2 linked regions of the Homo sapiens genome follow. The protein of the gene in region 1 interacts with the protein of each later gene in a biochemical or structural test. Each region holds a gene or a part of one and is shown in the gene's direction. Other genes may lie near its edges.

What was found. Proteins that work in one complex are often made in the same cells at the same time.
Region 2: the proteins of ZBTB7A (region 1) and ZBTB48 form a complex in vitro, tested with the Homo sapiens proteins (one study listed by BioGRID).

What each region holds. Positions count from the first base shown.
Region 1 is NC_000019.10:4,063,868-4,071,041, reverse strand, and holds the start of ZBTB7A (zinc finger and BTB domain-containing protein 7A), read left to right. Parts: upstream 1-4,142; 5' UTR 4,143-4,360; intron 4,361-5,512; exon of another isoform or gene 5,513-5,612; intron 5,613-5,760; exon of another isoform or gene 5,761-6,794; intron 6,795-7,174. UniProt on the Homo sapiens protein: Transcription factor that represses the transcription of a wide range of genes involved in cell proliferation and differentiation.
Region 2 is NC_000001.11:6,582,869-6,589,780, forward strand, and holds the end of ZBTB48 (zinc finger and BTB domain-containing protein 48), read left to right. Parts: intron 1-3,050; coding exon 3,051-3,162; intron 3,163-3,708; coding exon of another isoform or gene 3,709-3,795; exon of another isoform or gene 3,796-3,826; coding exon 3,827-3,919; intron 3,920-4,336; coding exon 4,337-4,423; intron 4,424-4,609; coding exon 4,610-4,764; intron 4,765-5,191; coding exon 5,192-5,328; intron 5,329-5,409; coding exon 5,410-5,574; intron 5,575-5,887; coding exon 5,888-5,976; intron 5,977-6,047; coding exon 6,048-6,344; 3' UTR 6,345-6,412; downstream 6,413-6,912. UniProt on the Homo sapiens protein: Plays a critical role in transcriptional regulation and chromatin remodeling. Acts as a regulator of telomere length. Directly binds the telomeric double-stranded 5'-TTAGGG-3' repeat.

The sequences.
Region 1 (7,174 bases):
CATTATTATTATTATTCATTTATTTTTAAAAAATGGAGATGGGGCCAGGCGCGGTGGCTCATGCCTGTAATCCCAGCAATTTGGGAGGCCAAGGTGGGTGGATCACAAGGTCAGGGATTTGAGACCAGCTTGGCCAATATGGTGAAACTCCATCTCCAGTAAAAATACAAAAATTAGCTGTGCATGGTGGCGTGCACCTGTAGTCCCAGCTACTTGGGAGGCTGAGGCACAAGAATTGCTTGAACCCGGGAGGTGAAGGTTGCAGTGAGCTGAGATCGCGGCACTGCACTCCAGCCTGGGCAACAGAGGGAGACTCCGTATCAAAATAAATAAATAAATAAAAATAAAATAAAATATTACATGACTTCACAGCACAGTCTAGTCAACGTAACTGAAACTCAAGTCCCCCCAGCCACTCCCTTTGTGTCTTTGCTAAGTTACTCCTCCTCCCTGGTCCCCTGTCTACATCTATCCACCAAGGATAATAACCCTGGCTACGGCCGGGCCCGGTGGCTCACGCCTGTAATCCCAGCACTTTGGGAGGCCGAGGTGGGCGGATCATCTGAGGTCGGGAGTTCAAGACCAGCCTGAATAACATGGAGAAACCCCGTCTCTACTAAAAATACAAAATTAGAGGCCGGGCACGGTGGCTTATGCCTGTAATCCCAGCACTTTGGGAGGCCGAGGCGGGCGGATCATGAGGTCAGGAGTTTGAGACTAGCCTTGCCCACATAGTGAAACCCCATCTCTATAAAAACGCAAAATTAGCTGGGCATGGTGGTGCGCGGCTGTAATCCCAGCTACTCAGGAGGCTGAGGCAGGAGAATCGCTTGAACCAGGGAGGCGGAGGTTGCAGTGAGCCGAGATCGTGCCATTGCACTCCAGCCTGGGCAATAGTGTGAGACTTGTCTCAAAAAAAAAAAAAAAAAAAATTAGCCGGATGTGGTGGCGTATGCCTGTAATCCCAGCTACTTGGGAGGTTGAGGCAGGAAAATCGCTTGAACCTGAGAGGCAGAGGTTGTGGTGAGCCGAGATCGTGCCATTACACTCCAGCCTGGGCAATAAGAGTGAACCTCTGTCTCACAAACAAATAAACAAACAAACAAACAGACAAACAGAAAACCCCTGGCTACACAGAGACAAAAATAATAGGCGTGACTCAAACATTAATAATATAATCACACCTATCATGTAATGAAGACCTCCCTGGTGCAGGGGTTGTGCTGTCTCAGCGTTCCATGCACCGTCTCATTTCTCCCTTGTCACAACACTAGGAAGTTGCATCGATTCTTCTCTCCAAAGGAGTCTGAGGATCAGAGAGGTTAAGCAACCTGCCCAAGATCACACAGCAACCCAATCTTTTATACTTTATTAGGTTTTCAATAGTATCAACTCGGGTTTTTTTTTTTTTTTTTTTTTTTTGGTTGGGGGAGGAAAAAGGAAGTGAAGGGCAGAGGTCAGGAGGAAGCTTTGGGTCCCCTTCGTTCTGTTTTCATGACAGGGGCGGGGGGCGTGGTTTGGGGTGTGCCACATCCTGGCACTTCCTGAAGGACCTCCCTTTGGTCCCCCTGGCAGCGTCCAGAGACACGCGAATGCTGGACTTAACATCCTTGCTCCTTGTCCATCTCTGGGCCTCAGTTTCCCCAACTGTATGGTGGAAATTGTAGTCTCTGCTTCTTCTCAGGGCTGCGATGAGGATTAGGGTCCATGCCCGTCTCACAGAGGAGCCCCTGCCCCTCTGAGTCAGGTTCTCACCATGGAGAATCCGAGTGGGGCTTTCTCGATCCTTTTCCTGCAGGATCGGATCTGAGGCTGGTGGTACAAGAGGGGAAACTGAGTCACCTGCTGCTCCTGGTGTGGGGGAAGTTAGACCATGTAGAGCTTAGAGCCTGGGCGTCTCGCTGGCACGATGGTTCATTCCTGTCATCTCAGCACTGTGGGAGGCTCAGGTGGGAGGAACACTGAAGCCCAGGAGTTTGAGACCTGGGAAACATAGCAAGACCCCCCCACGGCCCCACCAAATCTCTATTAAAAAAACAAAAAACAAAACAAACAAACAAAAAAAACCAAGGCCAGCCACGGTGGCTCACGCCTGTAATCCCAGCCCTTTGGGAGGCCAAGGTGGTTGGATCACCTGAAGTCAAGAGTTTGAGACCAGGCTTGCCAACATGGCAAAACTCTGTATCTACTAAAAATACAAAAAAAAAAAAAAAAATTAGCCGGGCGTGGTGGCAGGTGCCTGTAATCCCAGCTACTCAGGAGGCTGAGGCAGGGGAATCGCTTGAACCCGGGAGGCGGAGATTGCAGTAAGCCAAGATCGTGCCATTGCACTCCAGGCTGGGCGACAGAGCAAGTCTGTCTAAAACAAAAAACAAAAAAACAAAACAAAAAAAAACGTCTGGGCATCATTTGCAGAAATCCAAACACAACAGTGGGATCTGGGAAGAATCGTGCTTCAGCGTGGCCTCCTGGTCCCGAGGCTGATGGCCGGTGGTTGAAGGAAGAAGGATTTCTATCCCAGGCAGGGTCCTTGGAGCAAAGTCCCTGGATGACACCCTCGCCCTAGATCCACGCGGCCCCTCCCTGGGTCCCTTCCCACCTACCCGGCTGGTTTCAGGCTGCGAGTCCTGAGACAGTCCACTTCCCCTCCGGGGGGCCCTCCCGGGTTTCCCCTCGTAGCCAGATTATTATTACAAAAGCCAATCCAACCCGTTTGGGTGTTGAAAGGCGCTTTTAATAAATTGTGCGAAGAAGCCATAAACTGTGTCTCTCGCAGGAGAGGCTTTGAAGTCAGAGGACAGGCTGGGTACACTACACCCAGGCCGGTGGTGGTTCCCGCTGTCAGGTGGTGTTGGTACTAAGAATGCCAGATAATAATAAAACATAATAATGACCCTGGGATTAGGTGTTAGAATGAAGGCACAGTGAGCCCCGGAACAGGGTCACCCACTGGATAAGCGCTCACTAAACGGCAGCTAAAGCAGCTGTCAGTACTCTCTCTGTCTGGAGGAATGAGGAAGGGGAAACTGAGTCCTGGAGCCCTCCCCCCCCCCCCCAGGCGCGCGGTCGCACCAGCCAGCCCTCCCCGGGCCGGGCCAGGACGTTCTCACCACTCGTGCCCTGCTCCCCCTTCCCTGTCCCCCGCCGGACCTCTCCCACGACCGGGGAGGAAGTGGGAGAAACGGACAGGGGAAAAAAAAAAGTCGCGCTGAACCAACGCCTCCCCACTCCCCACCTCCGCCCCTCGCGAGCCATGCAGACCCCCTTGTGCCAAGGAGCGGCCCGCGCGGACCAGGCGTCCAGGGCCCGGTCCCCGTCCCGCCCCGCGGCCCGCAGCCGGGTGGGGGAACTCGCGAAGCCGGGAAAACAACCGCCCTCCCCGCCCCTCGCCAACCCCTTCCCCCGCTGACGCCCCTAGCGCAGCGGGGTGGAGGCGACTCCTTTATATAATCGCGGGAGGGCAGGTTGGTGGTTTCATTTAGGGACCCGGGAGCCCCGCGGACCCGGGCTGTCCTTGGCAAGGCCACCCCCCGGGGTCCCTGGCGCGGCAAGTCCCACTGAGGCCCGGGGAGGCCCAGGGCCTGGCCTTGCGGGGGGATCCCCACCGCCTCACCCCCAACCCACCCCCGGCAGCCCAGGCCGCGCGACCCACACGCCCGCGTCGCTCCTCGCTGTGCGCACCGCGCTCCCCGCCCCCGCTGCCATCCTGCCACGCCCCGGGCGTCGGGGGCACAGCCCGCGCCCCCCCGCACCCCGCCCCTGCGCAGAGGCTGGGGGCCTGTTTATCTGGAGGCCCCCACCCCCCCTCCACCCCGGGGGGCCCGCTCCCCCCGCGCCCCGGGGAGCTCTGGGGCCAGATAAGCTGGCAAGCTGGCACGGCGCCGCGCGGCGGGGCGGAGAGGTCAGAGGCGGGGGGGCGCGCCGGGGCGGGCCGGACCCCCCCCCCCGACTTGACAAAACCTAATAACAGCCCGGTCTCCCCGGCGCAGCGGGCGAAGCCCCACGGGAGGGCAGAGACGTGGCAAGAGGGGACCTGCCGAGCCTGTTCTGGCCTCCGAGGCCAGGCTGGGGGGGGCGGGCTGGGCGTGGGGGGGCCGGCGGCTGCGGCACCTTTAAGACAAGGGAGGACCCCTCTTGCCCTCGGAGAAACCAGGAAGGGAGTCGCGAGCATCATACGGGGCTTTGGCTGTACTGTACAGTTACTGTAGGGGCAGTGACGCCGCCGCCGCCGCGCGAGGGAGCGACCAGGGCAGCGCGACGCGGGCAGAGCGAGCGCCGCGGACCCCGGAGGCGAGCGGCCGAGGGAGCCCAGTCCCAACTTCGGGCCCCGGCCCCGCGCGCCCCGGCCCGGCCCCGCGAGGTAAGTCAGCGCCCGGCGCGGCCCCCGGCACGGGGTGCAGGGCGGGGACGGGCGGGGGTCGCTGCGGCCACCGCTGCCCCCTCGGGAAGGGGAGATCCGGGGAGCCGGGGACGTTCCCCCAAGTTTCAGAGGAAGGGGTGGTTGGCAGCTGCCCGGAGGCTGGAGGCGCCCTGGATCCCGAGCGCGGGGAGGGGGCGCCGCCCGGGAAGGGGGGATTGGGGGCTAAGTGCATGAGCTTGTGCGCCAGCCCCCCCCAACCCGGGTGCATGGCTTTTCGGGGCTCCCAGGCGCGCGGGGAGCGGGGGAGGGGAAGCAGGGCTGCATTGAGGGTGGGGGGAGCCGGCGTGGGGAGATAGGGGGGCGCGTCGCCTGCTAAGTTTCCAGCTGAAGACGAGGGGCGCTCTCGCCCCCCGGGGGCCTATTCGGTGCTGCGTGCATACGTTGGAGTTGGCCAGGATTGAGCTCCATGGGGGATGGGGGGGAGGGGGCTGAAAAAACAGGGAGGGGGGCTTCGGAAAGGAGGGGGAAGGGGTGGGGTGTCCGGGTGGGCGGGCAGGGCCGCAGGGACCTCTGGGCTTCGTAGTCCCTCCGCCGTTTGCAGCCGGCAGGTGGCAAGCGGCTTGGACTACAAGTCCCAGGGTGCCCCGCGCCGACAGCCCGCCGCGGCCTGCGGGTAGGGGCGGTGCGGAGGAGGGGCGGTGAGCGGCGGGCCGGAGAGCCAATGGGCGCGGGCCGATCGCGCGGCGCGGCGCGGGGGCGGGGCCAGCCCGCCAGGGGGCGGGGCCTGGAGCCGGGCTCCCCTCGCCGGGGGCCGGTGGCGGTCCCGGCTTCCGGCTGCGCGGCCCGCGGGCCGGCCCCCTCCCCGCCCCGGGGCCCCTCCCCGCCTGGTTGTGTAACCGTCCCCAGCCCCCCTCCCCTCGGCCCCCCGCCCGTGGGGGGGGGGTCACCCTCCCCGCGCTCCCCGGGGAGGGCGGCGGCCCGGGCGGCCGCGCGGTGCAGGCGAGCCCGGGGATGCGCGGCCTAGCGCAGGCCGGGCCCGGGCGTGGGGGAGGCGGGCGGGCGGACCCAGATCCGGGGTAATTTGCATCGCCCTCCCCCCAGCCCGGGTGGGGATTGGCCGCCGGCGGCGGGGGGTGGCGCGGGGCCAGGCTCACTGCCGCCTCCCGGCCCCTCGGAGGGAGCCAGCCCAGCCGCAGCCGCCGCCACCGCCGCCGCCGGGGCCGGGCCCCCTCGCCGCTGCCCCGGGAAGGAGGTAGGAGCCCCCCGCGCGGGCGAGGCGGCGGGGGACCGCGGGCCGGGCGGGGGCCGCGCGCTGCGGCCGGGGCGGGGGAGGGGGCCGCTTCCTGCCCCCGCCCGGGCCTGACTCAGCCCCGGGTGGGGGGCCTGGCCTGGCCCCTCGCCCTGCCCGGACGGCCGTCCGGCTCCGACCCGCGGGAGGGGGCGGAGAGAGCACCCCAGTCCCCGCCGTCCGCGCCCCCAAAGCGCGTGACCCCGTCTCCTCTGGCCCGGACCCCCCCTCCTTTCCCTTGACGCCACCACCACGTGCGAAGCCTGAGCCCGGGCAGGGGAGGGGGGAGCTGGTGGGATCCAGCCCCCTCCCTCCCGCTCCCTACCTCCCGGGCGGGAGACCCAGCCCCCCCGGCCTGGGAGCCTGGCTGGGGGCTGAGCGGAGCGGAGGAGCGGGTGCCCCCCCAGGGACCGGGCCTCTGCGGGTTCTGGGAGGCGCTGCCCGGGCTGGCTGGCGGGGGCGCACGGTGGGCCGCGGCGGGAGGTTGCTGTCCACCCGGGCCCGGACACCCAGTCGGCGCCCACTAAATGTTGGCGGAATGCAGCCAGGAGTTGGCGGCGAGGCGGGGGGAGGCAGCAACTCCTCTCCCCCCAGTCAGGCGGCGGAAGTCACAGAGGTGCTGGTGCCCCTGCCACCCGCGGCACCCACCTGGCTCACCCATGGGTGGCGGGCTCGGTGGGCCCCCCCACCTCCCTGCCAGCTGCCTCCGGAGAGGGCGTGGGGATTCCGTGTCAGTGCCCCCCGCCCCAACCTCAGAACTGGACCAGGGCGTAACCCTGAGCGTGCCGCTCCCACACTGGGGGTGCCTCCCCACCACCGGCCGATCACTTCCTATTGGCAAACTGGTCTGGGAGAGGTCCCGGGGAGGCCAGGCTGGGGCAGGGGCCCAGGCCAGGCCAGGCCTAAGCCCAGCCCTGCTGCTGCCAGGGCCTGAGGGCTTCAGGCCGGGGGCGTTTGTCCGCGAGGGCCACCCGCCATGGGGCCCCGAGAGCACCTATCGGCGGGGCCGGGGCCTCTGTTTACCACCAGCCATCGCTGTGGAGACAGAGCTTGGGGGAGAAGGGGGGGCAGGAGCCGGCCGCTGGAAAAGCGAAGTCTAAGGAAGGAAAGAAGAGCCAACCGGGACACTGAAATTTTAATTCGTGGGTCAGTCCGGGGGGTATTTATTATTCAGTTCCGATTGGCTGCGTGGCGGCCAGTCAGCACCTGGGCCCGGGCGGGCAGCCACGCATCGGCAGAGGCCCGCGGGCGGCCGCAGGCAGTGGATGGGTCCTTTGCTCTGTGCGGGAGACTGAGGCGCGGCCGAGGCAGAGCCCAGCCTGGGGCCTGGTCGGAAAGGTTCCTGGGGCGATCACAAATCCCTGCTGGGTGTTTGTTTGTTTGTTTGTTTTTTCCTTTTCTTTCCTTGAGTCCCTCTGACCTATAGCTGGGTCCACCTGGTGGCAGATCCCCGTTGCCATATGAGGAGGAAACCAAGGCCGGGAGGGGAGGTCAAATGTGAGCCTGGAAACTCCGGAGGTTAGAGC
Region 2 (6,912 bases), on another chromosome or scaffold:
TCTGTTGCCCAGGCTGGTCTCAAACTCCTGGGCTCAATCGATCCACCCACCCTGGCCTCCCAAAGTGCTGGAATTATAGGTGTGAGCCACCATGCCCAGCCCCCAGGGGCTATTTTATGTTTTTTGTTTGTTTTTGTTTTTGAGTTGGAGTCTTGCTCTGTCACCAGGCTAGAGTGCAGTAGCGTGATCTCAGCTCAGTGCAACCTCTGCCTCCTGGGTTCAAGTGATTCCTCTGCTTCAGCCTCCCAAATAGCTGGGATTACAGGCACATGCCACCACACCCGGCTAATTTTTTGTATTTTAGTAGAGACGGGGTTTCACCATGATGGCCATGATGGTCTCAATCTCCTGACCTTGTGATCCACCCGCCTTGGCCTCCCAAAGTGCTGGGATTACAGGTGTGAGCCACCATGCTCAGCCTATGTTGTTTTTCATTTTATTTTATTTTTTTGAGACGGAGTCTCACTCTGTTGCCAGGCTGGAGTGCAGTGGCATGAGATCGGCTCACTGCAACCTCCGCCTCCTGGGTTCAAGCGATTCTCCTGTCTCAGCCTCCCGAGTAGCTGGGATTACAGGTGCCTGCCACCACGCCTGGCTAATATTTGTATTTTTAGTAGAGATGGGGCTTCACTATCTTGGCCAGGCTGGTCTTGAACTCCTGACCTTGTGATCCACCTGCCTCGGCCTCCCAAAGTGCTGGGACTACAGGCATGAGCCACTGCGCCCAGCCTGTTATTTTTTTTTTTTTTTTTGAGACAGTCTCACTGTGTCGCCCAGGTTGGAGTGCAGTGGCATGATCTTGGCTCACTGCAACTTCTGTCTCCCAGGTTTAAGCGATTCTCCTGCCTCAGCCTCCTCAGTAGCTGGGACTACAGGTGCGCACCACTACGCCCAGCTAATTGTTTTACTTTTTTTTTTTTTTTTTTTTGAGATGGAGTCTCCCCTCTGTCGCCCAGGCTGGAGTGTGGTGGCTCCGTCTAAGCTCACTACAACCTCTGCCTCCCAGGTTCAAGCGATTCTCCTGCCTCAGCCTCCTGAGTAGCTGGGATTACAGGCACGCGCCACCACACCTGGCTAATTTTTTTGTGTGTGTTTAGTAGAGACAGGGTTTCAGCATGTTGGTCAGGCTGGTTTCGAACTCCTGACCTTGTGATCCACCTGCCTCAGCCTCCCAAAGTGCTGGGATTACAGGCGTGAGCCACCGTGCCCAGCCATTTTTTTACTTTTTAGTAGTGATGGGTTTCACCATATTGGCCAGGCTGATCTCAAACTCCTGACCTTGCGATCCACCTGCCTTAGCTTCCCAAAGTGCTGGGATTACAGGCGAGAGCCACCGTGCCCAGCCCCCAGGGACTATTTTAACTTAAAATTTAAAATTAAATAAAAATTCAGTTCCTCAGATACGTTAGCCAAATCTGAAGTGGTGAGGAACCACGTGTCTCCTGGTGGCTGAATCGGGCAGTGCTGACATAGCACATTTCCATCATCGTGGAGAATCCCCTTGGGCGGCACTGCTTTGGAGTCCCTGCAAGGCCTGTGGGGATGGCGGCCCAGTGGCATGCCTTCCAGTCCTGCCACTCCCAGCCAAGACATCACTAGTCTATCATGGTGTGTTTTCTTGCCATGCCAGGTTGGGCGGCACACTAGTAATCACCTAGAATGGGAGCCAGGGGGAAACCCGTTCGCTGTCCCTGTGCACCGTGTTCAGGGCAGCTGCTGCCAGTGGAATGCTGGGATAACCCCAGTGTCGGGGGTCCTGGGGCAGCCTGTGTACTGCTGGATGCTTGCTTTCAAGTACTCTGCTGGGGTAAGACTCTGGGGCAGTTTCCATCCCTTCCTTGGGCTTCAGCTTGCTGGACTGGCCCTGAGAACTGGGAGGGGATGGCTTCATGAAGTCATTTTGATGGGGGATGAAGATAGTTGCTGTAGAGGAAGAGGATGAGAGAGCTGCTTGGCCTCTGGAAGGTGGGAGGAGCTGTCGCAGGCTGCACAGGGGCTCTGAGGTCGAGTTCGTTTAGTTCATTGATTAAGCAGTCTACCAGGTGGCCAGCAAGGCTTTGTGGGTGCTTGGGATGCATTTAAGGGAACTAAACAAAGGTGCTTGTGCAGCCGACCTGCTTGCCAGGCAATGCAGATAACAGATAAGTCCATCTGCCTGCAGTAGACGGTGAGGAAGTGCTGCCGAAGAAGAAAAAGCAGAGGCGGGCCAAGGGGTTGGGGAGTTGTGAGTGGGGTTCGATTGCGATTTTAAGTAGCCAGGGTCTCTAGAGTCTTACTGAGAAGGTGAGATTTAAGCAAAGACTCAAAGGAGGTGAGGAAGTTGACCAAGTGGGTGACTGGGGAGCATCTGGGCAGAGAGAAGAGCCAGGGCGCTGGGGTAGGAGGATCCTGGGGGCGTGACAGGCAGCAAGGAGGCACATGCCTGATCCAGGTGGCCAGACGACACCCTGGGAGAGAAGCAGGCAAGGGGAGGGCTGCCTGCGCCTTGATAGGCCTCCCGGGCCCTTTCTCTGAATGGGGAAGCACTGGGGATACGTGAGCCAAGAGGTACTGAGGTCTGACTTAAAGGTCCTTCTGGCTCCTGAACTGAAACCTGTGGGGGAGGCAGTCACGGAGCGGGGAGACCAGATGGGCAGCTCCCCTGGCTACCTGGGAGAAGCTGTTGCCAGCCTTGGTGGGCCAGTGGAGTCAGGTGAGGATCTGGCCATGGGTTTGAAGCTCTGGGAAGACTGAGTTGCTTCTCCAATAGTCAGGACCCAAGATCTGTTTCTGCCTTCAGACAGAATGCGGTCAGCTGGGCCTCCCTGTCGGCCTCTGTGCTGGCCAGATCCATGGCAGCCTCTTAGGACCTGTGTGAGCTTCTTGCCACTGCACTCTCCCTTGCAGAGTCTCCATGCTGGGGGAGGCTTCTGGGCTTGTCCCTGCACCTTAACCAGCCGGTGTCACCTGAGAACACTTGTTCCCCTTAGAAGGGACCCAGAGGGGGCCCTGGGTGAGGGAGAGATGGGAAACCCTCTCAGCCCCCCCACCCCTGTGGCTTCTCCTGGCAGGAAACATACTGGGGAGAAACCCTTTGAGTGTCCCAAATGTGGGAAGTGTTACTTTCGGAAGGAGAACCTCCTGGAGCATGAAGCCCGGAATTGCATGAACCGCTCGGAACAGGTACTTGGGAGCTGGCCCAGGTACTTGTGGGCAGGGCACACTGGCCTCTCTGTCTTCGTGCCATCCGGGAAGGGCCCCAGGAGACTGTCTGAGAGGGGTACTGTAAACTCAGGAAAGCTGTGGGGTCCTTGGATGTCATGAGGTCCATGCCCTGGTACAGGTGGGGACACAGGTCCTGAGGGCGGAAGGGACAGGCATAGGAGGGACTCTGTGGGAGGCATTTGGGGTTGGCTTTCCTAGGCCCCTGGCCCACCTCCACCTTGGCTTTGGAGAAGGGGAGCCGCTACAGGGGATGGCAGCTGGGAAAGGCCCCCTGGCCACCCCCAGCAACCCCACTGCTGGCTTCTGTGTCAGGGCCCGCCGAAACCCAGGCCCACTCTTCCTAGAGGCCTGTCAGCAGCCACTAGGGCCAGGGACTGTGGGTGAGGCCACTCGGACCCTGCCCCCAGTCTGTCTGGGCCTGAGAAGGGCCTGGTGTGCGGTGGGCTTGCAGCACTCAGTGATGGTCAGGCCAGGCAGGTTATGTGTTGCCCTCTCCCACCCTAGCGTCCCCACCCTCCCCAGGCAGACTCTTCCCAGCAGCAAGCGGAAGCCCGGGCAGAGGCTGCTGTCATAGGCAGAGGCCCCCGCTGATGCCGGCCCTGCTTGCCCCTCACACTGCCAGGTCTTCACGTGCTCTGTGTGCCAGGAGACATTCCGCCGAAGGATGGAGCTGCGGGTGCACATGGTGTCTCACACAGGGGAGATGCCCTACAAGGTCAGGCTTGGCCTGTCTCCAGGGCCAGGGTTGGGTGGCCCCAGGATCCTTCCTGCTGAGCCCTTTACGTGGGGTGCTGTCAGGCACCTCCCTCACAGTAGCTGTCAGGGAGCCTGCCTTCCCTGCCTTCCCTGCCTTTCCAGTGCCCCCTTATCTAGGCAGGGCTACTGTCTGCAGCCTCACCTCCAAGGTCCTTATTAGGCCCTTGTTTCTTTCCATGGAGGACAGGCTTGGCATCCTCTGGGCAGCTGAGCCCTGAGGGCCCTCCTTTGCACCATCCTTCACACCAGATCAGGGGTCCTCCCAGAATCATCTCACCGGGGCCTCCCTCTAGTTCCTGCCCTATAGCCCAAGGGTGGGTGGCAGGGTTTCATGGGTGCAGGCCGCCCTGGAGGTGACTGTGGGCCTCTTTTTCAGTGTTCCTCCTGCTCCCAGCAGTTCATGCAGAAGAAGGACTTGCAGAGCCACATGATCAAACTTCATGGAGCCCCCAAGCCCCATGCAGTAAGTGACAGGGAGGGCTGGGCATGCTTTGATGCTGGCATGAGCAAGAGTGAGCTGTGCCCAGAGTGGGCAGCCGGCCATGTACTTTCTGTTGTTCGGGGGGGTGCTTGTGGGTCTCCCAGGCAGCCCTTCCCTGCTCTCACCCTGGCCCTGGTCCCTCCCTCTGCCTGCCTGGTCTGCCTGCAGTGCCCCACCTGTGCCAAGTGCTTCCTGTCTCGGACAGAGCTGCAGCTGCATGAAGCTTTCAAGCACCGTGGTGAGAAGCTGTTTGTGTGTGAGGAGTGTGGGCACCGGGCCTCGAGCCGGAATGGCCTGCAGATGCACATCAAGGCCAAGCACAGGTGCGTGTCGCCCGTTCTCTCTTGGGGCCCAGTCCTGCTGCCAGCCCAGGCTTGCACCGGCAGGGAAGACAGAGTTTGCTGACTTTTACACAGATGAGTGTGCCCTTGGCCTCCACCCTGAATCTAGTGCCTACAGCCTCTCTGGGATAGTGGGACCTGAGGGGCAAGCAGCTATGCCAGGCAGAGAGGCTGGGGGCAGATGTTTCAGGCTCAGACAAGCCTCTGTGCCCCCGGGGCAGATTCTGAGCTTCCTTAGTTTCCTGTGACTCCTGCTCATAGATTGTCCTTCTGCTCTCGGGGTGGAGGTGGTGCCCCTTTCCTAGCACTGCCCAAGCCCTCTTTCCACCAGGCATGCTCCTAGCTGTAGCAGAGCAAGGGGGTCACTTCCCTTGGTGATGGCCTCTGCCCCATGTCCCCACCTTAACAGGAATGAGAGGCCACACGTATGTGAGTTCTGCAGCCACGCCTTCACCCAAAAGGCCAATCTCAACATGCACCTGCGCACACACACGGGTGAGAAGCCCTTCCAGTGCCACCTCTGTGGCAAGACCTTCCGAACCCAAGGTGAGGTACGCCCTGCCCCTCCCCTCGCCTCCCCATCCTGAGGCCAAGGCCACAGGCTGAGCTCTTGCCTTGTGCCTGCAGCCAGCCTGGACAAGCACAACCGCACCCACACCGGGGAAAGGCCCTTCAGTTGCGAGTTCTGTGAACAGCGCTTCACTGAGAAGGGGCCCCTCCTGAGGCACGTGGCCAGCCGCCATCAGGAGGGCCGGCCCCACTTCTGCCAGATATGCGGCAAGACCTTCAAAGGTACCTGGGCGGCCCTGGGAGAGCCATTTCCTGCTCATCCGAGTTGGAGGGTCTCTGAGGAGGAAACGCTCCTTTCTTGCCTGTGAACCTCTTTTGTGCCCCACATGGTTAGAGTTGAGAGTGGACCTGCTTTGAAGGCAGGGGTGTCCTGTGCAGTAGTGACCCTGGGTGGCACTGGAGAGCCTGGCAGGGCCTGTGCAGCACTTGTAAACCACTGGTCCCCTCCCTTGCTGCCTGTCCCAACCTCCTGCTGGGTTTCCTCGAGGGTCCCGGGGCTCCTGCATGATCCCCCACGGTGTTCTCCCTCTTGCAGCCGTGGAGCAACTGCGTGTGCACGTCAGACGGCACAAGGGGGTGAGGAAGTTTGAGTGCACCGAGTGTGGCTACAAGTTTACCCGACAGGTAGGCCAGGGCCTGGGCCCCTTCCCCTACCCTAGGATCCCCCAAAGTTCTGAGCTCACCCTCCCCGCCAGGCCCACCTGCGGAGGCACATGGAGATCCACGACCGGGTAGAGAACTACAACCCGCGGCAGCGCAAGCTCCGCAACCTGATCATCGAGGACGAGAAGATGGTGGTGGTGGCGCTGCAGCCGCCTGCAGAGCTGGAGGTGGGCTCGGCGGAGGTCATTGTGGAGTCCCTGGCCCAGGGCGGCCTGGCCTCCCAGCTCCCCGGCCAGAGACTGTGTGCAGAGGAGAGCTTCACCGGCCCAGGTGTCCTGGAGCCCTCCCTCATCATCACAGCTGCTGTCCCCGAGGACTGTGACACATAGCCCATTCTGGCCACCAGAGCCCACTTGGCCCCACCCCTCAATAAACCGTGTGGCTTTGGACTCTCGTATTTCAGCCTGACAGTCTGTTCCCGTGTCCTGGAGTTGGGGAAGTGCTGCCTTCCCACCCACGCCTTCAGGAGAGAGTAGTGCCCTGCCCGGTCCTATGTGGGCCTCAGCTCAGCTGGCAGCTTCCCCTCCTGTCAGGAAACCTCAGCTGAGCGAGGCTTGGATGGGGTTCCTTTGGGGGCCAAACCTCTGGCCTTGGCTGCTCTCCACATCTGTATTCTGTTCCTCATTACTGCAGGATTTTAGAGTGGGGAACGCTGGCCAGTTAGAGCACCAGTATTCCTATTTTAGAGCTGAGGTGATACCGGCTTCTGGAGATAGAATTCATTACTAAGCTTCTGGAGTTCAGTAGAGTGATCAGGGCCCACGGGGCTGGCCTTGTTGGGCAGAATCAAGGATTGGGCCCAGTTAGTGTAGCTGAGCACGCCTGGGGGTCTGAGGAGGGTGGGGCCCTTCCTTCAAGCAGCCTGGTCTGTGTCCAGGAGGCTTTGGTCCCCACGTT